Linked DNA regions of Homo sapiens. The protein of the gene in region 4 interacts with the protein of the main gene of each other region in a biochemical or structural test. Each region holds a gene or a part of one and is shown on either strand. Other genes may lie near its edges.

The links.
Region 1: the proteins of LRRK2 (region 4) and SNX9 interact on a protein array, tested with the Homo sapiens proteins (one large-scale study listed by IntAct).
Region 2: the proteins of LRRK2 (region 4) and VASH2 form a complex in vitro, tested with the Homo sapiens proteins (one large-scale study listed by BioGRID and IntAct).
Region 3: the proteins of LRRK2 (region 4) and FCHSD1 form a complex in vitro, tested with the Homo sapiens proteins (one large-scale study listed by BioGRID and IntAct).
Region 5: of the proteins of LRRK2 (region 4) and CSNK1E, one has a biochemical effect on the other in vitro, tested with the Homo sapiens proteins (one study listed by IntAct).
Region 6: the proteins of LRRK2 (region 4) and C1orf87 form a complex in vitro, tested with the Homo sapiens proteins (one large-scale study listed by BioGRID and IntAct).
Region 7: the proteins of LRRK2 (region 4) and TCEA2 form a complex in vitro, tested with the Homo sapiens proteins (one large-scale study listed by BioGRID and IntAct).

What each region holds. Positions count from the first base shown.
Region 1 is NC_000006.12:157,899,746-157,903,245, reverse strand, and holds part of SNX9 (sorting nexin-9), read right to left. Parts: intron 1,349-3,500; coding exon 1,201-1,348; intron 1-1,200. UniProt on the Homo sapiens protein: Involved in endocytosis and intracellular vesicle trafficking, both during interphase and at the end of mitosis. Required for efficient progress through mitosis and cytokinesis. Required for normal formation of the cleavage furrow at the end of mitosis.
Region 2 is NC_000001.11:212,957,041-212,960,540, reverse strand, and holds part of VASH2 (tubulinyl-Tyr carboxypeptidase 2), read right to left. Parts: intron 1-3,500. UniProt on the Homo sapiens protein: Tyrosine carboxypeptidase that removes the C-terminal tyrosine residue of alpha-tubulin, thereby regulating microtubule dynamics and function.
Region 3 is NC_000005.10:141,644,919-141,648,418, reverse strand, and holds part of FCHSD1 (F-BAR and double SH3 domains protein 1), read left to right. Parts: intron 1-322; coding exon 323-451; intron 452-898; coding exon 899-1,021; intron 1,022-1,188; coding exon 1,189-1,284; intron 1,285-1,696; coding exon 1,697-1,816; coding exon of another isoform or gene 1,817-1,821; intron 1,822-2,227; coding exon 2,228-2,332; intron 2,333-2,486; coding exon 2,487-2,648; intron 2,649-3,270; coding exon 3,271-3,399; intron 3,400-3,476; coding exon 3,477-3,500.
Region 4 is NC_000012.12:40,360,997-40,364,496, forward strand, and holds part of LRRK2 (leucine-rich repeat serine/threonine-protein kinase 2), read left to right. Parts: exon of another isoform or gene 1-2,188; intron 2,189-2,405; coding exon 2,406-2,558; intron 2,559-3,500. UniProt on the Homo sapiens protein: Serine/threonine-protein kinase which phosphorylates a broad range of proteins involved in multiple processes such as neuronal plasticity, innate immunity, autophagy, and vesicle trafficking.
Region 5 is NC_000022.11:38,296,934-38,300,433, forward strand, and holds part of CSNK1E (casein kinase I), read right to left. Parts: intron 3,133-3,500; coding exon 2,962-3,132; intron 2,002-2,961; coding exon 1,853-2,001; intron 1-1,852. Other genes in the region: TPTEP2-CSNK1E (casein kinase I), read right to left, coding at 1,853-2,001, 2,962-3,132.
Region 6 is NC_000001.11:59,989,894-59,993,770, reverse strand, and holds the end of C1orf87 (uncharacterized protein C1orf87), read left to right. Parts: intron 1-2,937; coding exon 2,938-3,098; 3' UTR 3,099-3,377; downstream 3,378-3,877.
Region 7 is NC_000020.11:64,066,198-64,069,522, forward strand, and holds part of TCEA2 (transcription elongation factor A protein 2), read left to right. Parts: intron 1-49; exon of another isoform or gene 50-135; intron 136-208; exon of another isoform or gene 209-278; coding exon 279-341; intron 342-717; coding exon 718-823; intron 824-1,849; coding exon 1,850-1,937; intron 1,938-3,163; coding exon 3,164-3,294; intron 3,295-3,325. UniProt on the Homo sapiens protein: Necessary for efficient RNA polymerase II transcription elongation past template-encoded arresting sites.

The DNA.
Region 1 (3,500 bases), on a different chromosome or scaffold from region 4:
GATTAACATTCTTTGATATCTGCCTTGAATCATGGAATTGGAATATTGGGAAAAAGTATTAGTAATTTCAAAAAATAAACTAAACATAACTGCTGGAAGGAGTACTTGAAAATTCTGATGGAAGTCATAAATTACTAATATATCTCCTTCAAGCTACACTGGCATAGACTACAGCCTTATTTAGGTCTCTCCAAAGAATCCTACAGTGGTCACTGGTGCCCACATGCTTTCCTGTTAAGTAGGGTATCTACAAGTACTGTTAAAAACTTTTTTTTTTTGGCTAGGTGTGGTGGCTCAAGCCTGTAATCCCAGCACTTTGGGAGGTAGAGGCGGGCGGATCACTTGAGACCAGGAGCTTGAGACCAGCCTGGCCAACGTGGTAAAACCTCGTCTCTACTAAAAATACAAAAATTAGCTGGGCGCGGTGGCACATGTTTGTAATCCCAGCTACTCAGGTGGCTGAGGCACGAGAATTGCTTGAACCCGGGACGTTGGGGTTGCAGTGAACCAAGATCGCACCACTGCACTTCAGCCTGGGTGACAGAGCGAGACGCCTGTCTCAAAACAAAAAAATAAAACACAACACTTTTTTTTTTGTTTTAAATCTAAGAGAAACCTAAGCTAACACAAAGCTCCGGACCACGTTTTTAGGCACAGGAGCTGAAACACGTGCTTTGGCGCCTGAGGGCCTGGCTTCCTGACTGGAACACTCGATGCGTCTCTCTGGGCATCAGTTTGCCTGCAGTAAAACAGGGGTTTTATGTACCACAAAGGGATATGAGGGCTACATGCGAATGATACAAACCTCTCTGCACAATGCCTGGCACATGGCAAGTGATTAACAAAACAGTAAAACATTTAAAAGAGAGTTGTTATTATTATTCTTTTTAGCTTTCCTGTGACATTAGCAATGAAACCTTAATATGTCATAAATTGATAAAGCTAGAAGTAATGAAAACAGTTTGGGAAATCATTAAATAAAATAAATATTTCACTTATTAACCTTGTAAATCAAAAATCCTTTTTTTTTTTTAAGTAAGCTTCTCAGTTAAGATCCAAATAAAAATAACTGAATCATATCCAAAACTTAGGAGATCACTGGAAAGGGAAAAGGCCAGCTGCCTCTTGGTAGGGTATATACTTTGTATTAATGTATACTTCTACCACGGCCCTGGTTCCCTGGCTCCCCTTTAAACTTACTTGTTAAGGGGAATTTTCATGGATGAGGAACTAGCACGACTGTTTCCTCGCTGAGCGCCGCCTGCATCAGCTGACTCTGAATCCTTAAAGTAGGAAGAGGATTTGGGCCCATCCCAGTCTTCATCCCAGTCATCATCATCACCAGTTGCTAGAGGTGAAAATGGAAGATCATCAGTTAAAAAAAAAAAAAAGACCAAAATAAAAATGAAATTACTTAATTTTCTGACAGTAACTACCTACTGGGCAAATCAATTTTTTTTTGATGGAGAAAAGGGTATAGTATAGGAGTATAATATGGATGTTAAGAGTAAAGGCTGTGTAGTCAATTTTAAGCCTTGAATTACAGATTCTTTTAGTGCAAAAGACAAATCAGAAGCAACTTAAAGAGGGCTATCAGATTACTTTTAAATTTTTGACACGGGCACCGAGATGACACAGTGGAGAAAGGGCAGTCTCTTTAGTAAGTCGTGCTGGGAAAACCAGGTATCTACATGCAAAAGAATAAAACTGGACCTTGTCTTACACCACACACAAAAATCAACTTAAAATAGATTACAGACCTAAATGGAAGACCTGAAACCACACAACTCCTAGAAGGAAACACAGGGGAAAAGCTCCTTGGCGCTGGCCTTGGCAAATGTTTTTTTGAGTATTACACCAAAAGCACAGGGAACAAAGTCAAAAATAACAGGCGGGACTACATGGAACTAAAAAGCTTCTGAACAGCAAAGGAAACAATCAAAATGAAAAGGTAGCCTATGGGCTGGTGTAGGGAGACCCCCTGAAACTATTGCTATGGAATAAAAGATGAAATGCTCCTGATTATTGTAAATACAAAATTGCATGCAGGATTGTGTAAAGACAGTGCCAGGTGGGACTGCCAGAATGAGCCAACAGCATGTGATGTGCTTCCCCCTGCAGAGAGCCTATGAATGGATGTGCAGTCAGGGAGGTTTCACATCACCAAGATTCCTATCCCAGAAAAGCAGATATTCATAGCTCTGGGAATGGAAAGTGACCCTTGTAAAGAGCCTATAAACAGACACATGGGGGCACCGTCCATATGGATAAGATAGGGCTATAAACGCCCTCATCTTGCCAGGGCTCTTCTGGGCCTCTTTAGGGTTAAGGCATACTCCCTTCTGAGAATTTCTGGTCTAACAGGTTGTCTAGCTTCACGTCCTGTTTCTACGGATTGTTTGTAACCAGCTTTTGCTGCAACTGTTACTGCTGATTAATATCTTGCTAATCATAGGTTATGGAAAGACTGTGTTTCTGTTTTAAGGCTCTGTCAGAAATTACTGATGCATACACTATATTGTAAATTCTTATCTCTGTATACTGTACTTCTGCATACAGATGTTATGTTAAAGAATTACTTCATCCCCATGTGACCATCTCACCTCATAATCAAATGACCCTAAATCCCTCACTAACCTACCCCCGCCCTCACTAAACTTAATAATAAATGCTGGTATATCCAGTGCATTGTTGGCACTGCAGGACCAGAAGGCAGTGACCCCCCCGGACCCAGCTTTCGCTATCTTGTGTGTGTCTATTATTTCTCAACGGGCCGATCCGCCTGGGAACACAAAGAGAACCCCGTTGCATTGCGGGCTGCTGGCCAGATCCCGCAATAGGCTGGGAGAAAATATTTGCGAGCCATGTATCTGATAACCTGTTAATATTCAAAACATATAATGAACTCGCACAATTCAATAGCAAATAAAAAAAGCTCAATTAAAAAATGGACAAAGGACCCAAATTGACATTTTTCCAAAGAAGACCAAAAAATGGCCAAGAGGTATATGAAAATGCACTCAACATCACACACAAAGAAAAATACCACATGGATCTTATTTACATGTGGAACTTTTAACAGGTCTTTAAAAAAATCTAAAAAACTTATAGAAGCAGAAAGTAGAAAGGTGGTTACCAGGGGCAGGGAGACGGGGAACTAGGGAGATGCAGGTCAAAGGTACAAAGTTGCAGTCATGTAGGATAAGTCTAGAGATCTCATGTACAGCATGAGGACTACAGTTAATGATATTGCATTATATTTGGGAAACCTGCTGAGGGAGATTTTAGGTGCTCTTACCACACACACACCCACAGGCACGCACTTGCACATATACACGCGCACACACACACACTTAGGTAATCATGTGAGGTGAGGGATATGTTAAGCGCTTGGCTGTAGTAATGATTTCAGTATATACATGTATATTACAACATCACGCTGTATACCTCAAATATAGATAATTTTTTTTTTGAGACGGAGCCTCGCTTTGTTGGCCAGG
Region 2 (3,500 bases), on a different chromosome or scaffold from region 4:
GGTGCCCTAGCGAATTGCAACATGGCACTACGAGTGCCACATCTCAATACCACCCTCCCTGCAACGCCCAGTGTGTCCCTTTCCCTGAGTCCCACCCCCAGATGGATTAGGGAAGATCCCTCCTCTTGCCTCGACTCTCCCCAGACAAGTGCAGCTCCTCTGGCTCACACGCCATCTTACCACTTTACCCCTCACAGCAGCTCCACCAACACACTCACTTCCTAGTCTGCCCCTCAATCAACACTCCCTGAATGTCTACAACACAGCAGACGAAGTCCTAATCCCTGCCAGGAAGAGAAAGAACCAAAGTCAGGCAAGGACTGGAAAGGGGGAAGCAGGTCCCACTTCTCAGGAATTTAGAGCTAAGATATCCACTCGGCTCTGAGCAGCCGTACCCTGAAGGCCAAGAGCAAGAACAGACAGGGACGTCCAATCAAGTCGCTGCTGAAAAGCCAGGCACGGTTTGGGGTTTTCTTGGTTGGTTTTGTTTTTCGCTTTATTTCACCTACATGTTTCTCGGTCTTCTGACCTCTGTCTCCCTGGGGTCCTTGGTGACAGAGAATCTCAGCCCACGTGGGTGGGGCTCCGGCAGTGCTGCTGCTGGGAAGGAGAAAGGAGGCTCCTCCAGGCTAAGCCACTTAAGGAGAAGCAGAAAGGGCCTGAGGACAGGTGAGGCCCATCCTCAGAGCAAACAGGGCAAGGGCAGCCCTGGGGATCTGGTGCTCCGCTGATGGAAGGGGACTCCGCTGGGGAGGTGCAGGGATGGCCCTGTGCAGCCAGGCCAGGCAGCAGAGGCAGACACTGCCTAAGGCTGTTCGAGGCTCTCTCCCTGACTCTCCAGGCGCCAGCCCCAGTGTGAGGCTGAGGGCACGCTGCCCCCCGCCTGGGCATCGGGGTCTTTCCATGCTTCCACCCCGCTGCCTACACTTACTGCAAGTACTCCTTGACATTCCTTTCCTCTCACTGCCTCAATTCTCTCTTGGCTTTGAAATGTCCTACTTCACAGCAACTGCCTCCTCAGCTGGAAGGAAACTCATCAGAATCACACTTCCTGCATTACAGCCAAGGTATTGTGTGTGTGTGTGTGTGTGTGAATGTGCGTGTGAATGTGAGTGTGTGTGCACACTCAGGCACAGCTATTCTGCAAGCTCCATTTTGTTTACAACATGTCAACCCAAATCAATCACATTGCTGTCTGAGAGAGTCATTTCAGGGGGCAAGGCATTGAATATTTGCTCCCATGACACTCACAGAGACACACACACACACACACAGAGCAAGTCAAAATGTAAAGCGTATTCTGTGTTTCTGCCCTAGCATACACTAGAAAGTGTTCTATGTAAAAAATGTGCCAGAGATTTCACAAAGTGGGGAGAGAAGGGGAGACGTGAACAAGTATGTCTTTAGCACCTCCTGTGTTTCAAGTTTTAGGCCCTGTACGAACGAACGAGAGAGAAAGCCCAGGAGCAGAGGCAGAGAGGAGGGGAATTCTAGTTTATTAAGACATACGCAGGTCGGGCGCAGTGGCTGACGCCTGTAATCCCAGCGCTTTGGGAGGCCGAGGTGGGCAGATCGCTTGAGCCCAGAAGTTCGAGACCAGCCTGGGCAACATGGCGAGACCCCATCACTAAAAAAAAAAGAAAGAAAGAAAGAAAGAAAATTAGCCGAGCATGGTGATGCACGCCTGTAGTTTCAGCTACTCAGGAGGCTGAGGTAGGAAGATGGCTTGAGCCCAGGGGGTCAAGGCTGCAGTGAGCCATAAATGGGCCACCGCACTCCAGCTTGAGTGACAGAGCAAGACCCTGTCTCAAAAAAAAAAGACATAAACATTTCTGCACAGAAAAGCACAGTCTGAACCTCTTTAATAGAAAAGCTGGTAAGTGTGGGAAAATGCTCTGAGGAATCACCAGCCACCTAAGAGATCCCCAGAGGGGTGTCCCTAGGCCAGAGCCTTGCTGTAACCAGTGACTTGGTTCAAGAGTCTGCTGAAGGACTGACCACCAAATTATTTCAACCCCCCTCAAGCCCAGCAGAGCCCACAAGAGCTGGATGGCAGGGTGGGAGCAGACGGCAGGTGGTCCCCAAAATAGCAACCCGATGGCGCCCAAGGGCTTTTAAAAACAGCTGCATGGTTACCTCAGCCTGGCTGTAAGCAGAGTGCAGGAGCTGTGGCCACACTTCCTGCCCAACGGGAGGACAAACGTATACATTCCCCAAGTCCCAGCTGGGGGCAGGGCAGTGGCGGGGAGGCGCAGAGACCACAGAGGGAATGATGTCATAGGCTACAGCTCACTCTGATGTCTGGGAGAGCTGTCTGGGCTCAGCCTGGAGGGTCCACTTCCAACCAGCGCCTCGGGCTCCCAACGTTCCCACTGGCCATGGACTGTAAACCAGGTGGGCTTCCCGGAGTGTCATTAGGAGACACACACAACCAGGTCCAAAGCCCTGCTCTGCCACCTACTAGCTGTGGGCCCTGGTCAAGCTGCATGACCTCTCTAAGCCTCTGTTTTCTTCCTGATAAAATAGGAATAGTATCACCTACTTCCAACCTTCCAAGCTGGTTGTAAGCATTACATGACCTAATGCAAAAGTAGGCAACTTGGGGCTTGGCATATGGTGCTCATTAAGTGTAAGCTGTGTTGGCCAGGTGCCGTGGCTCACACGTGTAGTCCCAACACTTTGGGAGGCCAAGGTGAGTGGATCACTTGAGGTTGGGAGTTTGAGACCAGCCTGGCCAACAGGGCGAAACTAAAAATACAAAAATCAGCTGGGCATGGTGGTAGGCGCCTGTAAACCCAGCTACTTGGCAGGCTGAGGCAGGAGAATTGCTTAAACCTGAGAGGCGGAGGTTGCAGTGATTGAGCCACTGCACTCCAGCGTGGGTGTCAGAGCAAGACTCCATCTCAAAAAAAAAAAAAAAAAAGTGTAAGCTGTGTATTATTCATCACCAATATATTGTCAGGGGTCTAGGCTGGGGAAACCTGAATGATCCCTACTTTCTGGAACTGGAAAACAGAAACAGCAGCAGCAGAGTCCCTGGACACTCAACTTGGGAGCTTCACATCATGAAGATACCTTCTTACCTTAATGGAGAGGATGAAAACGTTCACTGCTCCCTGGGGATGCATTGGTGACAATGAGTTAATACCCTTAATTCATTATGAGCTCATGCAAAGTGACAAGAAAAATCTTTAGGCCTCAGTGAAAATAAAAATGGCCCCCAAAGGTGGAAGCAACCCAAGTGTCCATTGACAGATGAATGAATAAACAAAATGTGGCGCACCACGGAATATACGATGGTATACAGTGGAACACGATTCAGCCTTTAAAAGGAAAGACGTTTTGACACATGCTATCACATAGATGAACCTTGATGACATTTTGCTAAATGAAGTAAGCCAATCACAAAAGGACAAATATTGAATAATTCCTCTTATATAAGGTTCCCAGAGTAGTCAAAGTCATAGAGACACAAAGTAGAATGGTCGTTGCCAGGGGCT
Region 3 (3,500 bases), on a different chromosome or scaffold from region 4:
AACTGAGAGAGGGCCAGTATGGCTGGAGTACTGTGAGCAAGGGAACAAGCGCTTGAAAAGAGGTCAGAGAGATTGCGGGGGCCAGCTCATATTGAACGTGGTGGACCATGGTAAGGAACAGTGGATTTTATTTTAAATGCGTGCAGAAGGCACTAGAAGATTTTGAGCAGGAGTTGTGTGTATGCAACATTTTTAGTGTAGTGCCAGGCACATAGTAAGCACTCAATAATGTGAGAATCCATTCTGGATCTGGCTTCTCAATTGGTCTTGGAAGGACTCTGGGGGTCTAGGGCTTCCTATTGACATCAGTTTACCCTCCTAGCTGTCCGCCCAGTCAGCCCAGTACTCCCAGCAGCTGCAAGCAGCCCGCAATGAGTACCTGCTTAACTTGGTGGCTACCAATGCCCACCTCGACCATTACTACCAGGAGGAACTGCCAGCTCTGCTCAAGGCCAGTTTTAACCCAGACACCCCTATCCCTCAGCAGGGAGGGAAAGGAGGACCTCCCCCTGCTTCTTGATCCCCATGACAGTGGGTGGTGCAGGGGATCTTGTCTGTTTAGAGTGAGTAGATGATACATACATGCACTCTGGTTCTGCTCCTAGCTGGCTGCATGGCATTGTACAGTACACTTAAACTCTTCCGAACCCCAGATTCCTCATCAGGGATAACCCTTTCTCTGCCTATCTTATAGCACTAGTGGGGCTCAAAGGAGAGAATGGATGTGAACGTGTTTTAAACTTCTAAGTGCTCTGCACACGAGGGCCTTTCTCATGAAGAATGTCTTCTTCTCTCCTTCCTATACCTCATGCCCATCACCTGTCAAATCTGGAACGAGCCTATTTTACAGTAGAGGTCTGGGGGAAGGGTGGTGTCAGTATCTTGGGGTTCTCTCTAGGCCCTGGTCAGTGAGCTGTCAGAGCACTTGAGGGACCCCCTGACCTCCCTGAGCCACACTGAGCTGGAAGCCGCAGAGGTCATCCTGGAGCATGCCCACCGCGGGGAGCAGACAACCTCCCAGGTGAGGGCTGTGGCCTCTAAGAGCTTCCCCGGGGATCCTTTTTACCCTTCCCTCCCAATGCAGCCCTCTTTGCTTCACACATTGTCCTTTTTCTTCCAAGAAGTGCTAGGGACAGGGTTGGAGAGTGAGTCAGTGAATGAGTGACTTTGACTTTTCCCAACCCCTAGGTAAGCTGGGAGCAAGACCTGAAGCTGTTTCTTCAGGAGCCTGGTGTATTTTCCCCCACCCCACCTCAGCAGTTTCAGCCAGCAGGGACTGATCAGGTGAGATCTTCCTGCTTGTTGGAACCAGGCCACATATAAAGGCGATTATGATTTAGGCCTCCTCCATTATCTTTGTTTTGTGTTAACTTAGTGAGTGTACACCGTGGAGAGGGGGTTTCAGAACTCCAGCTCACCTCCCTCCCAACAGGACACACACAAAAAAACACACCTCAGTCCACCTTTCAGTCACTTGACTGCGCCATCCTTTTCATTCTACCTCTGTCCCTTGACCTGGATCCCATTTCTGAAGCTCTGTATCTCTGTGTCCACATTACCTGTGTCCATGACTGTAGGCATGTGCCCCTTTCTCTTTGTCCTTGTCCTTGGAGGTCAAGATAGAGTGGAAAAAGGAGGGAACTGGAGAGAAGGAGCAGCCTCAGGTCCTCCTCACAGCACCCCCTGACCCATTCAGGTGTGTGTCCTGGAGTGGGGAGCAGAAGGCGTGGCTGGCAAGAGTGGCCTGGAGAAAGAGGTTCAGCGCTTGACCAGCCGAGCTGCCCGTGACTACAAGATCCAGAACCATGGGCATCGGGTGAGGTGGGGGGGCACAGGTGTCATGTGCACCTTCTTGTCTCAGCAAGAAGAGCTGAGAGAGGGGATCTTGGAGCCATTGAGGGTGTCATGGAGCTACAGAGGGGAGGGAAAGGTATTTTAAGGTAACAGTGTGGCACAATAGTTAAGAGCACAGTTTTTGGAGCTAGACCGACATAGGTTCAAATTCTCTTCTGTTGCTTCCTAGTTCTGTAGCCCCAGGTAAGGGAGTGACTTAACCTCTCTGGACTTCAATTTCCTCATCACTAAAGTAGGGCCAATAATAGCACCCACCTCATAGGGAAGATTAAATGACATAATGTATGTGATGCAACTAGCAAAGTACCAGTCCCATAGTAAGTCATGCCCCACAGTATTTCCACCCACCCCTGTTCTCTGCCTTCCCAACCAGGTACTGCAACGACTGGAGCAGAGGCGGCAGCAGGCTTCAGAGCGGGAGGCTCCAAGCATAGAACAGAGGTTACAGGAAGTGCGAGAGAGCATCCGCCGGGCACAGGTGAGGCACACCCCTGAGGTTAGAGATCCCACCTTCTCAGGCAAGCCCCACTCCCTCTACTCCTCTTTCTGATGGTGGGAGGAAGGAAGGGAGAAGCAGAGAGTAAACACTGCCGTCAGCCAGGTTCCACTAACTTACTTCCTCCCCATGGCAGGTGAGCCAGGTGAAGGGGGCTGCCCGGCTGGCCCTGCTGCAGGGGGCTGGCTTAGATGTGGAGCGCTGGCTGAAGCCAGCCATGACCCAGGCCCAGGATGAGGTGGAGCAGGAGCGGCGGCTCAGTGAGGCTCGGCTGTCCCAGAGGGACCTCTCTCCAACCGTGAGCTCCTCCCCCAACACTACCCATCCTTACTTAGAAGGGAAAAACTCCAGTGGAAGGCAAACCCTATAAAACTGGAATCACAGTTGTGCCTAACTCAAAGGGTTATTACGAGGCTTAAGTGAAATCATCATATATCATTCTTTGCATAATTTCTGGCATAGAGTCCTCAGTACATTTTTATTATGAGCATAATAGAATGATTAAGAAGTAGGGTTCTGGGGCAGTCTGTAAGGGCTTTGAGTACCAGCCACTCCACTTATGAGCTGTGCAATCTCGAAAAGTGACTTAACCTTTCTGAACCCCAGTTTCCTTGTAAATAAAGTGAGGTTAATAGTTGTGCAAAACTATTAACACTGGGTCATTATGAAGATTAAATGAGACAATATACACAAGATACTTTGCATTGTACCTGGCACATAGTATGCACTCAATTACTGTAACTCTATTACTGTTAGTATTATCCTGCTCTGTGGTGACTGTGGTTGTGTACATGGTGAGTGGATGGGTGCACCTGCCTTGGAGGATCCATGGTGTCCTTTAGAGGAAAGATGGAAGAGTGGGAGATAGAACCAGTGCTTGAGAGTGGGCCCCATATGAGGTCTGTTCTTTGCCCCTCTAGGCTGAGGATGCTGAGCTTTCTGACTTTGAGGAATGTGAGGAGACGGGAGAGCTCTTTGAGGAGCCTGCCCCCCAAGCCCTGGCCACGAGGGCCCTCCCCTGCCCTGCACACGTGGTATTTCGCTATCAGGTATGAATGGGGGTGGGGACCTCTGATGGGCAAGGGTGGGGGACAGCCAAGTCCTGAATCCTTCGTGTGTGGCCCAGGCAGGGCGTGAGGATGAGCTGACA
Region 4 (3,500 bases):
CAATACCACTAAATCTACTGGCTTTCAACATTGGCTGTGCATTTAGAAACCACTAGGTAGCTGAAAATAATATGATACCTGGGCCCTACCTCAGACCAATTAAATCAGACCAGTTAAGCCTGGGATGGGGATCAGATTTTTTTTTTCAGGTTCTCAAGTGATTCTAAAGTATATTTGAGGTTAAGATATACTGCGGAGTGCAGTGTATTATAAGTTCCCATGAATGAGGATTTTTATTTCTGTCTTTACATATTTATTTACTAGTATGTGGTTAACATTTGGATCAACTCATTCTCATTCTGTAATACCCACATTTTAAAAAATGAATGTAAAAATGTCTTTTATTATTTTTATTTTTCAAATTTAATTTTAGATTCCAGGAATACATGTGCAGGTTTGTTACAAAAGTATAGTGCGTGATGCTGAGGTTTGGAATACAACTGAACTCACAACCCAGAAAGTGGGCATAGTGCTTGATAGGTAGTTTTTCATCTTTGCTCCCCTTCCTGTAATTTCCACTTTTAACCCAATTATACAAGCCTGAAAACCTTTAAAAAGAAAGGGCCTCCAGTTTATTTTTTTATTTCATAGCACATTTTATGGGATTATGGATATCAGTTAACTCTTTAAAGTTCCATATAAGATTTGGAGCATAGATGCTTTACTAGAGAGCATCCATAAAGATCAAGCTCTCAAAGATGCTCATCTCCCAAAAGAGATTGGGACCTAGATGCATAAACACTTAAATATAAATATTTGCTCTCTTCTGAACAAGTATCTCCTGTGGCCTTGGTCTCTACCCCACAAAACAGACATCACATCACTAATCAGGGGTTGCCTCATCATCAGTACCCTCATCATCATCAGTACACACCGACTGAGAGGCATGTTGGGTAATGAAAGATGACTGCCTTTGAAGCCGGAAGACTCCATAGGACTTTTGGAGTTCTAGGTCTGCAACATGTTTTTAGTCCTAGGTCGGCAAGCATGATGTTAGTCATAGGACCTTGAGCAAATTATTTAGCATTTGTACATGTTTCTTTCTACTATTAAAAACATTGAGATTTATCATATTTTATGTTTTTTTATTAAGGATCAAGCAAGATAACACACAAAAGTATTTTATAAAATACGGAAATTCCATGCAAAACTTTGTCCTAATTGGAACTATTTTCTATTAAATACAGCAAATATCCAAGAAGGAATTACCTAAAGCGTAGTGGCTCTCTGACAACACATCATATTTTTACCTCCTTTTCCAGAATAGAAAGAAAAGGGGGAGGAAAAAAAATCTTCCTACTCTAGGATATACTAATGATTGTTAAATCTTTATGGTATTTTCATGTTATCTATCTGATTTAAATGCAATTTTGACTATTTTTACATATTCCTCGTTGTTCATTCATACTGTAGTGCCTTCTTCTATTCCCCCACTTAACAGACTGCTTGATTATATCAGAGGTGCTTATCTGTGCAACTGTTTACTGGACGAGGGGTATGTAGAAAATACATTGTCCTCATCCTTATGAAATTACACTCATAATCTAGTGTGAGGGATGCACTAATAAAGACAATTTTATATTTAATAAGGTCTATAATATGACAGTGACACCAGTGGGGAAAAGGGACTGGTTGGTCTATTTTGATAGGTCAGGGAAGAAATCCAGAGGAGCCGACATTTAAGTTCATCCTCAAAGGCCAAGTAGGAGTTTGCCATGCTGATGTGGCCCAAGGTAGCCAATCTGTTTGTGAAATATGTACAATGCCAGATGTCTTAGGTTGAAAGGGAAATATTTTAAGGTGTTCGTAATTTTTCTTTATGTTTAAAAGGGGAAAATGGCAAATATTTTACTTTCTGTTTATGTTTGGATGATGTGGATTTTTGTTTTCTATAATTTGACTGGCTTAACTGCAAAGATATCCCTTGCTTTAAAATTTGAAGACACTGCAACTAAATTTTATTTCAGCATTTTATATTTTATAACTCTAGGTATAAAAGGCTAACACTTAATTTTCTGAGCATTCATGAAACAAAGTTTTGCAAGAACATTCAAAAGTTACAGATATAATATTTCCTTCAGAAATTTAGATATAGTACAAAATTCTACAAAGAGCCACATAGAATTGAAACTAAAAGTAAGACCAAAGTAAACATTGGACATAATCTTTATTTTATTATCACAAGAAATTAATATAAAGTAACCAAAAGTAAGTAAAGTACCAAAGCATGTTATATATTCAATTCAGAATGGTTAGGGAAGAATATGAAATAATTGCAATAGTCTAGCTTGTTTAGTTTTCAAAATAGTGTTTTTACATTAAGAACTAATATAAGGTTGTATTACACGTAGAAATTTTAAGAAGAAAACAAATAGTGATGACTTTCTATTTTTTTTTCTCTGTAGGTTTTCTTATGCAGCTTTCAGTGATTCCAACATCATAACAGTGGTGGTAGACACTGCTCTCTATATTGCTAAGCAAAATAGCCCTGTTGTGGAAGTGTGGGATAAGAAAACTGAAAAACTCTGTGGACTAATAGACTGCGTGCACTTTTTAAGGTAAATTCTGTGGTTTTTAATTTTATTCCCAAAAGAATTATCTTTGCACTTCATGTGTCACAGAGGAAGGATTTTTCTTCCTTTCTGCCTCTGAATAGAGAATTTTTTTAAAATGCAGAAAAAAATTTGTAATGCTTCTCAGCACCATCTTTTCAGATCAAGAAAATTTTGTCTTCAGAACATAAAAGAATAGGCACATAATGTGCATAGTTTTCTCATGGTATTACAAAGAATGTTCTCGAATGAAAATACTACATTATTGAAAATGAGCATATTGGAGTCTCTGCTAGCTTTGACATAGTTCTGTCACAGTGTCAAATATACTATTTATAATTAAATTATGGGCCCCAGGATTATCTGCTCTAAAGAAAAAGAGTCACAAAATAATAGACAAATATGGGGGGAAATGCAATGGACTGACCGAGGCGCTAAGGAGTGGGGATCAAGACCCCAGAATGAGAGCATAGTGCTTAGTCTGATGCAGCCTGTGAGTGACAAATCCATAGCAAGCACATTCTTTCTGTGCTGGTGCTGAGAAACAGGACCATTTTCAAGCTTATTTGCTAGCCACTTTATATTTTTATTTTGTTTTGATTTTACCATATAGATCTATGATACTCTTGAGAACATTTTAGATTACACACTATATCTGTAAAAGGATACTTCAAAGTTTCCTGTCTTAGATTCATCTGACAGTTTTTCTATGGATTGTGAGAAGGGCTCACAGTTTATGTTCAGAAGGGCCAACAGGTCTCCTTGATAAAGGGTTCCTTACTTCCTGAAGTACCAAAACGATTAGGATTCTTTTATTTCTGGACACTTCATTTTTGTCATGAATTAGACTATTCACTGGTTCTGGGAAAAAATTCAGTGGTTTGTATCGATATCTTTTACATGTGAATGACTATAATTTTATGTTCCTTTGTAACATTGAGACTTCAT
Region 5 (3,500 bases), on a different chromosome or scaffold from region 4:
CCAGCTAATTTTTGTGTTTTTAGTAGAAATGGGTTTCACCATGTTGGCCAGGCTGGTCTTAAACTCCTGACCTCAAGTCATCCGCCCTCTATGGCCTCCCAAAGTGCTGGGATTACAGGCATGAGCCACCAGGCCTGGCCGACATTTCCAGTCTTGATTAATTTTAATTCATTAAAAATGTGTCGCATGTGGCCAATGGCTACCATCTTGGACAGTGTCCGTCTAGAGAATACAAAATCCATTCTTGCAGTTGTGCTGAGCTGGAGGGCCAAGCCCATCACGAACCAGACGTGGGAGTGACTATCTCGATAAGAAAGTGCCCAGTGCCCAATGCCCTGTGGTGGAAAGAGCTGGTCCCAGGTGCTCAAGGCCATGGGCCCCATTTGGAGCCAGAAGGTCTAGGGTGAAGTCAGAGAAGACGTCCCCTGCCCATATCCCATTTCCAGCCTTGCTGAAAAGGGCAACAGAGGCCTCTCCCTGAGGTCCCTAGCCTGCGAGACCCCCATTCTCTGCCTGACCTCTGTGTTACTCCTTAGTGAACAAGAAACCCAGAGAGAAGAGAAGCCCAAGACCAATGTGCCGACCTTGGCTTCCAGGAGAACAGAGCCTTGGTCCTAACCATCTAGCAGGGTGGCTGAGGGCCCTGCCATGAAAGAGGCACACCAGGATGAAGCAAGAGGAGGTGTTTAATGAGTTCTGGTTCAACACAGAGGCCGCCAACGGGGTCTAGCTATGAGTCTGTCCTGGGACCCGTTCCCACCAGGCCCCTTGTGGGCAGTGGCCACCATCCCTCCCTCAGGCTGTCCTGGCCCTCAAGGACCCCATGGCAGGGCCTTTTCCACCATGGCCTCCACTGTGCTGCCATCTCTTGGGAACAGGGGGTCATCCCATCCTCCCAAGAAACACTTCCTCAGGCCTGGCCCCGATGGGCTCAGGCACACCTGGCGACATCAGAAATGGGGCCCTGGAGTCCAGACCACAGGCCAGTAGTTTTGGGGGGACAGCTCCTCCACCTCCTCCACCGGCCTATCTGGGGGGCTCTGGGTGCCCAGGGGAGCCGGGCACCTGAAAGGGACAAAAAGCACAGCTGAGGCTCAGCCTCTTGCGCTCACTGGTCAAGTGGCAAATTTTGGAAAAGCCAGACCTCAGAGGATCCTTACCAGTACGTGGGTGAGTACGTGGGCCCAGCACAGGGACAGGGGCGGGGACAGAAAGGTCCCTTCGCTGTCATGGGGCTGTCACGGGGCTGAGCCTGGCTCGAGGAAGCCCCCTTTTCCAGAAGAGATGTGAAACAAGACATACAATTTCACAGATTCCAGAGCTCTGGGTACGGCCGGCCAATGCTGCTCCCCACCCAACCCCACCCCTGGGACTCTTAAAAGAGGGAAACAGAACAACTGCCTAGCCAGACCCAGGGGCCCATGACCAAGAAGAAAGCAAGCACCATGACTGGGTCCAGGCTGGCCCGAGGGGCCATGGTGCAGGTAGCCACCTGGGATGTGCAGAACAGGAGCAGCAGGACGGTGTAGGCAGCAATCAGGGCAGCAGGGGGCGCCGCCAGCACCACCCATGCCCTGCTGCGGGCACCCAGGAGGGACCCCAGGTGAAGCCAGATCCTCCTTGTTCCGACGGGAGACAGCGCCCTGCCTGGGCCCTGCTGCCCATGGTGGCACAAGCTGTCAGCACGGATGAGGCTGGAGGGCTCTGGGACCCCAGTGAGGTCAACCACACTGTCCAGCTCGTACCTCCCGTCTGTCGGGAGCCCCTCCCGCCACCAGCTCACTCTGGCCCTCTGAGTCAGGGCCTTCCCCATCCAGTCCCCCAAGCCCGCCTTGGCCTCCAGGTGACTCACGAATTTCAGCATGTTCCAGTCAAAGACGTAGTCATAGGAGAAGCCCTGCCGGTGGAAGAGGTTGCGGAAGAGCTGACGTAGGTAAGAGTAGTCGGGCTTGTCGTCAAACCGCAGGGAGCGGCAGAAGTTGAGGTATGTTGAGAATTCGGCTGGAGGGTGTTGCAGAGGATAGAGAAGGCCACTGTGAGGCCCACGCTCCCAGACCCCCTGCAGCCAGCACTGTCCTAGCCACCCACTGTCCCTAGATACTTCCAATCTGTGAGAGGCAAGAAAAGGAGGCAACAGAGCCATGGCCTTCCCTATCCTACTGTGATGAAAGCCTAGCCTGCCCGTGAGCAGAGCCTCTGCTGCTTTCAGAGCAAGGGAAGACCTGCGAACAGTGGCCAGGAGCCTCTGCCAGGTAGCCGGATCCAGGAGCCATCCATGCCCACAGCTCTTCCGCTGCCCTCGCCAAGCACCCTGGGGCCCACAGATCAATCGTTGCCATAAATTCAAAGGACTGCAAGAGCCTGACGGGACCTTCTAACACAACCTAAGCAAGAAGAGGAAAACTTCCAATTCCTCCTCAAAAACACTGGGGAGAGGGCCCTTGGGAGATGAGGCAGGAATGTAGGCCGGGAAGCAACAGGTGTAACAGCCAGGACAGGGAAACCGGGCCTTCTGGCTGTGCCAAGGAGTGGCAAAGAGCCAGGGATTACTGCTCAGGTGCCAAGGGCTGTGGGGCAGCCCAGTGTGGGCTTTGTTGTTGTTGTTTTTGAGATGATGTCTCGCTCTGTCACCCAGACTGGAGTGCAATGGTGCAATCTCGGCTCACTGCAACCTCCGCTTCCCAGGTTCAAGCAATTCTCCTGCCTCAGCCTCCTGAGTAGCTGGGATTACAGGTGGGGCTAATTTTTGTATTTTTAGTAGAGACAGGGTTTCACCATGTTACTCAGGCTGGTCTCGACCTCCTGACCTCATGATCCACCTGCCTTGGCCTCCCAAAGTGCCAGGACTGCAGGCGTGAACCACCGCGCCTAGCCCCAGCGTGGGCTTTGTATGGCCTCACCTTTCCCTTAGACAGTGCCTCAGGGGCCCCCAGGCATGTCCCCTCCCACTGGGCTACTCACAGGGATAGCCTTTGCAGAGGACCTCGATGGGCGTTGACATCTTCTTCTCGCTGATCCGTTCATACTTCTGGCGCTTGGTGGCTGCTTTGAGCCCCTGCCAGGGCAGGGAGCCCAGGTTGAAGTACATGAGCACGTAGCCCAGGCTCTCCAGGTCATCTCGACGGCTTTGCTCTGCACAGAGAGTCAAAGACTAGGTGAGGGACAGGGGTCCACTCAGGCCCCTAACTCATCCTCTGGGTCATGCTCCTCACAATGCACCAGGACCCTCCTGCCCCCACGTCGGATGTTGCTCACTGCACGCATTTTAAACAGGCACTGCTATTATCCTCCTCCTACAGAGAAGAAGCCTGAGGCAGGGCCTTCTCAACTTAATTTGGGCCTAGTTTTTCCAGTTCAGGCACTTAATCATTCAATGACTATGAGAGGGCACCTACTGCCCCCTTGCCTGGCCCACCCCGTGGAGAGGTCACAAGCTTCAGCATCAGACAGGGCCGGGGTCAAGTCCAGCTTTGGCATTAGCTAAGCTGCATGACCTTAAG
Region 6 (3,877 bases), on a different chromosome or scaffold from region 4:
AAAAAAAAAAAAAAGGATTCTTATTATTTTTTTATTTTGGTTCTGGTTAGAAAAGACAGGCTTTCCAACACTAAGATGGATTGTAAGGGCTATTTTATGCAGCTGTTCTGGGCATCCCCTAATGACAGAGTAAATTAGACAGATACAAATTTCATTCAGTGGACTTTTTGTTTGACTCTAGGCATCTTCTATCAATGGTAAAGCTTAGAAGATAGAAAATACTACTGTGATTCCTAGATGTATTTTTTAACATAACTTTTAATTTTTAATTAAAATATAAACTAAATGCTATCTATTTTAATAAGCAATTACATATATACTGTTTATATATTTTTAAAATAATGTTGATGACATAATTATTATAATTATCCTATAGTAAAATTTCACATTATTGAGTGATTACTAGTACTGGATACTGTGTGAACTTAATATTTTATTGATTTTCACACAATTTAATTACCTCTGTTTTCTTTTCCTTCTTTCCCTCTTTCTTTCCTCTTTTGACATTTATTTATGTATTTATGTATTTATGTATTTATTTATTTATTTAAGACAGGGGCCTCACTCCGTTGCCTGGGCTAGAATGCAATGGCATGATCACAACTCACTGCAGCCTCGACCTCCCAGGCTCAAATGATCCTCCCACCTTAGCTGGTGCATGCCACCACACCTCACTCATTTTTTTTCTTACAGTCATAAACTTATTCCAAATCCATGTCTTATATTTCCAGAGGCAGGGTGTGGAGAAATGGCCAGAGGAAGCAAAGCTAGACAGGACTGAGAGCAGCCATCCTATCCAGAAAACTTCGAAGATGCAATTGGCCAACTCAAAGAATGAGGTTTACATAAATGAAAGGACCACTGTTCTAATAAGAGAGACAGACAATAAATAGGCAATGAACAAACCAGAACAGAATAGAAAATGAACACACTGGAATAGAACAGAATAAATTAGGACCCCACCTATTGTGGCCTACTGTTAAAAATAGCGATTAGAGAGTAGTTGAGAAGGTGGCACCATGCACAATAGTACTTGCACATTTAAAAATGAGTAATATTTGGTATCTTAAACTGAGATGATAAGTATCTACCATTGCCCAACTCTAATGGACTAGTAGTGGCTTTCCGCAAAATGACAAGGCACTGCCTCTGGATTCTTTAGGAAGGAATTTCACCATCACTCTTACAGTTCGCACATATGAAGGAGAGTAAAAGAGGCCAGGCACAGTGGCACATGCCTATAATCCCAGCACTTTGAAAGGCATTAGGGGGAGGGTTGCTTGAGCTCAGGAGTTCCAGACCAGTCTGGGCACATAGTGAAACTTCATCACTACAAAAAATAAAAATATTAGCTGAGAGTGGTGGCACATACCTGCAATCCCAGCTACTCATGTGGCTTAGGTGGGAGGATCCCTTGAGCCCAGGAGATCAAGGCTACAGTGAGCCATGATCGTGCCTCTGTACTCCAGCCTAGGCAACAGAGTAAGACCCTGTCTCAAAATAAAAAATAAATAAATAAATAAATAAATAAATAAATAAATAAATAGACCCCTACTTGAAGCAATCTCTTTTCCCTCATTCCATAACGTACTGTAGTGGTTAACCTTAGGCAATCAAGAGACTTGCAGTCTCTAGGCTTTAGTTTTGCCCTCTGTGAAATGGGTTATTGTAAGGATTCAATTAGTTAATATTGGTGAAATGCTTGGAGCAGTTCCTGGAACATAGTAAATTTTATATTTAAATATTGTTTAATTATTATTGTTGTATCCCAGTTAATTTTCTGAATAACTTCTCTCCCCCACGGGACAGAGAACTTCCAGAGGTAGCAGAAAAATTCTCTAAATCTTCTGTATTCCCAAGCACAGTATCTGACACATAGATATTTGCAATTAGGGGCTTATGAGTGAGTTATTGATCTTCAGTGATGCCGTGGTCTACACTGCGACTCCTCCCAACAGCCATCAAAATCTATCCAATCTTAACATGGAAAGCATACTGACATTGGTATTGGCATATATAATGTGTGGGTACCAGAGCATATCCTGCAGTCATACACATTACCACCTCTATTACGCAGATTCAAACTCTGAGCTATGAGAAGTTAGATGCTTCACCTGTGATTGCACAGCAAGCTGGAGGGAGTCACAGGACAGTCAGTCCTCTGCATCTTTGTATTCCGCAACTACAGATTCAACCAACTGCATATCAAAAATATTTTAAAAAATAGAAATAAAATATAATGACACGACAACAAAAAAAAGTACAAATTTTAAAACACAGTATAACAACTATTTGCATTGCAATTGCATTGTATTAGGTGTTACAAGTAATCTAGAGATGGTTTAAAGTACATGGGAGAATGTGTATAGGTTACATGCAAATACTACTCCATTTTATATCGGGGCTTGAGCATCCATGGGTGTAGGTATCACTGTTGGGGAGGGGAATATTATGGACCTAATCCCTGCAGATACCAAAGAACATCTATAAATACATTTAGAGAAATGCATTTTGAAAATAAGCTGTTTAATCCCTGCATGTTTAGGAATGTGTTTGGAGACTTTAACAAGATAAAAAGAACTCAGGACAATTAGAAGTTACTTTTGCTAGGCACCCCCAGTGTTTCAAAAATTGGCCTTACAAGTTTTAAAGTTACAAAGAAAAGCCTAAATTGCTTTAGAATTTATCTATGGATCTTATTGGATCCCATCTTGTTCTCTTTCCCCTGAAATCACCCTCAGATTCTTCCTGAAATCTGTGATGCATACCCACAGCTATAAATATTTTTTAATATGCCACTTGATTTTTAAGAAGCTTAAAATTGCAAAGTATTAGCATTTAGTCTTTACCTGGAAGTCATTCAAGCTAATATATAGTTTTCTCTGTTTTCCCTCCATCCTCTTTAAAAAACCTTCCTCCTACCCAATCCAATCACAGGAGTTCTGGAGAAGGAACGAGCCAGACGCCTCATTCACAACTACAATCTCATTTACAACCTGTCCCTGAGCCCTCAGAAAATCGACCAGGCCTTGCGCAGATTCCGTTCGGGAGAAAATATGCTCTTGGAGCCAGCACTGCGGTACTTAAAGGAGCTATGATAACAAGCCCATATTGTGAGAACAGATGTTTCCCTTATCTCCCTTTTTACCCAGACACATGTTTCTCCCCAGCCTAAGTGTAGTGGCGGAGGCATTGTCAGAGTGGAGGCCGATGCAGCTATTGTAGATGCTTTTGATTTGGACTTAGTTTCTGGCTATGATGCTCACTCATAAGCAGTTCAAAGTGATCAGAGGAAACCTAGTTTTATCTTTTGATGTGGCAAGAACCCAGCTACTTAGAATCTCCTTCTGTTTTAATAAAACTTATTATTAATATTACATGTTTGATTTTTTCCTACATTGCTAATCAAACTATGTTGTTTCAAACCCCACAATTCCACATAGTAAAAAAAACATTAAATGTTGCCACTTCCCCACAGTGCCTGGAACCTAGTAGACCTATGAACATCATTTTTGGATAGGTAAATCATCCCTTCTCCTGGTCATTATTCTAGGAAGGATTTCCATACCATAAGAAAAATAAAAGTATTACCAATACACTATCTTAATCTTAAGCAGTAGAAGAAACATTTCAAGTGAGGTTTTCTGAACAAGTCCAATATTTTCTGCAGTACAAAACTAAACAACATTACACTGTCTCCAGGGGTATTTTCCAAAAGTCCAAGATAGAAGTTTTGAGGAAGGACTCCTTGGGACAAAGCGTTTTGGGAATAGGTAACATCCTTTGCTCTGCCTGGACAGGAAAACCAGGTGGAACTTTCCATCAGCTCCCATAGTTCTTCTGTTCTTAACATCCCCCCTGACTTTGCACCACTCAC
Region 7 (3,325 bases), on a different chromosome or scaffold from region 4:
GTGAGGTCATTGCCACGGATGTGGGTTACAACTTGGAATGCTTGAGGCTGCAGAACCCCTCCCCTTCTTGACTGAGCAGTAAGGGTTCCCTGCTGTGGTGCAGGAACATGTGGGCAGAGCCCTGGGTGTCTCCAGGTAGAGGAATTTTGGTTTCTTTTTGACCCCAGGTTGAATCTCCAAATTGTCACTGCCTTGTGTTCTCCTCCAGTAGGCAGAAGGAGGTGATATTGTCTGTTGAGATCTAAAGTCCTTTATGAAGGTCCTCCTTCTCCTTCCAGGAGGGAGCCATGGATTTGCTGCGGGAGCTGAAGGCCATGCCTATCACGCTGCACCTGCTCCAGGTAGGTCCCTGCCTGCCCCAGGTCCAGGACAGCTCCTGGGTGCAGCCCAGGGGATGGCAGTTCTGAGGGCACCTGGCAGGGCTTCCCCACCCTCCCCACCAGGCCTTAGTTGGCACAAATGCCTGTTCCTGAGGAGAGGGTCTCTGCCTTTCTCTGGGCTCAGTGGGACAGGGAGGGGAGTCTGAGGATAACCCATCTTGTCCTCCGTGGCTGAGGCTCCTGGGTTCCAAATGGGACAGTCGCCATTGGGAGAGGCCTCTACCTCCCTGGGAGGTCCCGGGCTCCTGTCCTGTGGGGGCCACCAAGGCTCTGCCAGGAGAATCTGACCCCTAGGGTGGGCCCCTGCCTCCCCCAACCCAGACCACTTGCCTCGTAGTCCACCCGAGTCGGGATGTCTGTCAACGCCCTTCGGAAGCAGAGCTCGGATGAGGAGGTCATTGCACTGGCCAAGTCTCTCATCAAGTCCTGGAAGAAGCTCCTGGGTGCGGCTCAGGCGGTGCCCACTGAGTGCTGGGGCAGGGGTCCCAGAAGTGCTGCCTCTTGCTGGTCAGCACAGTGTAGAGTGCTGGCAGTGTCCACCCTGAGCCAGGTCGCTTGGGAGTGGGGCAGTGGCAAACCCAGACCATGAAGCGCCCAGCTTGGGGCTGGCAGTGGATCAGTGGGTGCCTGTCAGCATTGGCTGGGAGGTGTGGCCTAGGAGGCCAGGGTGTGTGCTGGGGGCAGGGTTCCAGGTAGAACAAGGAGAGAAGAGAGTTGAGGCCAGGACTTGAACTGACAGCACTGAGAGACTGGGGTGAGTTGGGAGGTCACACAGAGGGGAAGGTCATGGCCAGGAGGCTGGGAAGTGCCGGGAGAGGGGAAGCGGGAGGGAGAAGGCAGGGCCACCTCAGCTACTCAGAGGGAACAGAGGGGCAGCCCCCTGCCAGGGAAGGGAAGGGCTGGGCTGGGCTGGGCTGGACTGAAGGCTGCCTCTTCCTGGAGACAGTGGGGTGACTGGGGTTGCAAAGATGCTGCTGTCTGGGATGGAGGCAACCCTCCTAGCTCTGTCCACACCCTTGTGAAACAGTCTCTCTCCAGCCCTGTGTGGCCCTCAGGCTGTGCATGGCACAAGCATGTCCTGGTCCCCAGCCCTTGGGCCTGGCTCTGGGCTTTCAGGAAGAGCCTTCTTGGGGACATGCTTGGTCTCTCTGGCCAGGACAGGCAGGAGGGTGGGCCCCAGAGAGGCCCCAGAGGTGGCCTTTGTGAGTGGGTGCTTGTACGGGAAAGGGTTCTGGGGAGGCAGCCTCAGGACTGCAGAGATGGACAGGTTGCTGGGGAGGGTGAGGACCTGTTCACAGAGGCTGGGCAGCCTCCTGGCCCCTGGCTCCCCTGGCTGGGTGAGGGGCTGGGGGCGGGGGCTGGGGCTGGGGCCGTGTTGGTGGTCGGGCTGAGGCTGTACCTTGGTGGTGGTCTGTGCCCCTCCCTCCTCTGCCTCCCCTTGATCAGCCCATCCCCGATCTTTCCTGCAGATGCTTCCGATGCCAAAGCCAGGGAGCGGGGGAGGGGCATGCCTCTGCCCACGTCCTCGAGGGATGCCTCAGAGGCCCCGGATCCCAGGTAGCACACCTGGAAGGCAGGTGCACACACTTCTGCTTCCCAGCCTGTTTCCTTGCCAGAGAAAGGGTGCCAGTCTCCATGTGCCTAGGCACTGCTTTGAGGCTGCACACAGAGTCGGTCAGCCTCATGCTGGACACCAGCCTTGTGGTGTGTCCCGCCTGCACTGACCACTTGAGATGTGGGTCTGTGTCCACCTGGCTGTCAGCCAGCCATCCTGGCCTCTTCCTCTGCCAAGAGCTGCTGTATACCCTGAGTGGGCCTGTGGGAGCCCCCTGGCCTCTTCCCCCAAGGCCCCCTGCTGGGTCTGGTTCTTGCTGGCCCACTCTGGCTTCCCCCTCAGCCTCACTCAACGACGGTCCCTCCTTCCTGCAAAATTCTGCCCAGAACCAAAGGCGGGGGCCAACTCCCCTCCTGCCCTGCATGTGCACGTGTGGTCACTGCTGCCAGGGGGTGATAAGGGCTCTGTGGCCTGCAGCTGGGAGCTGGGGGTGCTTATTGTGGCAGGCTATAGCCGAGAGATGGCTTTGCCCTTGACCACACTGGGTTGTGGTGACTGGGCCACCAGGAGCTCAGGGACACCTTTGCAAGTTGATTTTCCTCCAGGAAGCTGCCTGCTTCTGCCAACTTCCACAGAGGGGATGAGGGGAGGGCTAGGTGGATGCAGCCTGGTCGTTGGGCAGCCCCATGTTGGGGTCCAGCCCTGAGGGGCATCCTTCTCCCATTCTGTACGTGCCCAGGGGTGTCGTCTGTGACAGCAGAACCTGGCCTTGGGCGGCCCCGCCTTGTCTCCCCCCAGACAGCTGTGGGTCTCTCCCTCTCCCTGACCAGGCAGCAGCTGCAGCTGCCCTCAGCAGAGTATTTGTGTTGCGGCCCAGTGGGTGGGCACCCCAGAGGTGGCAGGAACTGCCAGGTTCATTCTGATCGACTGGTAATGCTGCCCAGATGCTGACTGCTGGGTCTGGGATCCTGTTCCCACCTGGAGAGTACACCCTGACCCACTGGGGACCTCATGGCCCTCTCCCTCCTGGCTGCTGGGCACACCCCATGGACATCTGGGCTGGACTCAAGATAGGCAGGGCCACAGGCCACTGTTGGACTCTGGCAGAGTAGAACAAGCAGGGGTTGGTGGGGGATTATGCTGTGGCACCTGCTGCTTCTAGGACCAGTGTCTCGCTGGGGTGCCTGCAGCCTTGAGTCTGAACCCAGCTGGCCCTGGCTCTCTGCAGCCGCAAGAGGCCGGAGCTGCCCAGGGCACCGTCGACTCCGAGGATCACCACATTTCCTCCGGTGCCTGTCACCTGTGATGCCGTGCGCAACAAGTGCCGCGAGATGCTGACCGCTGCCCTGCAGACGGACCGTGAGTGCGGCCGGCCCTGGCTCCTGACACC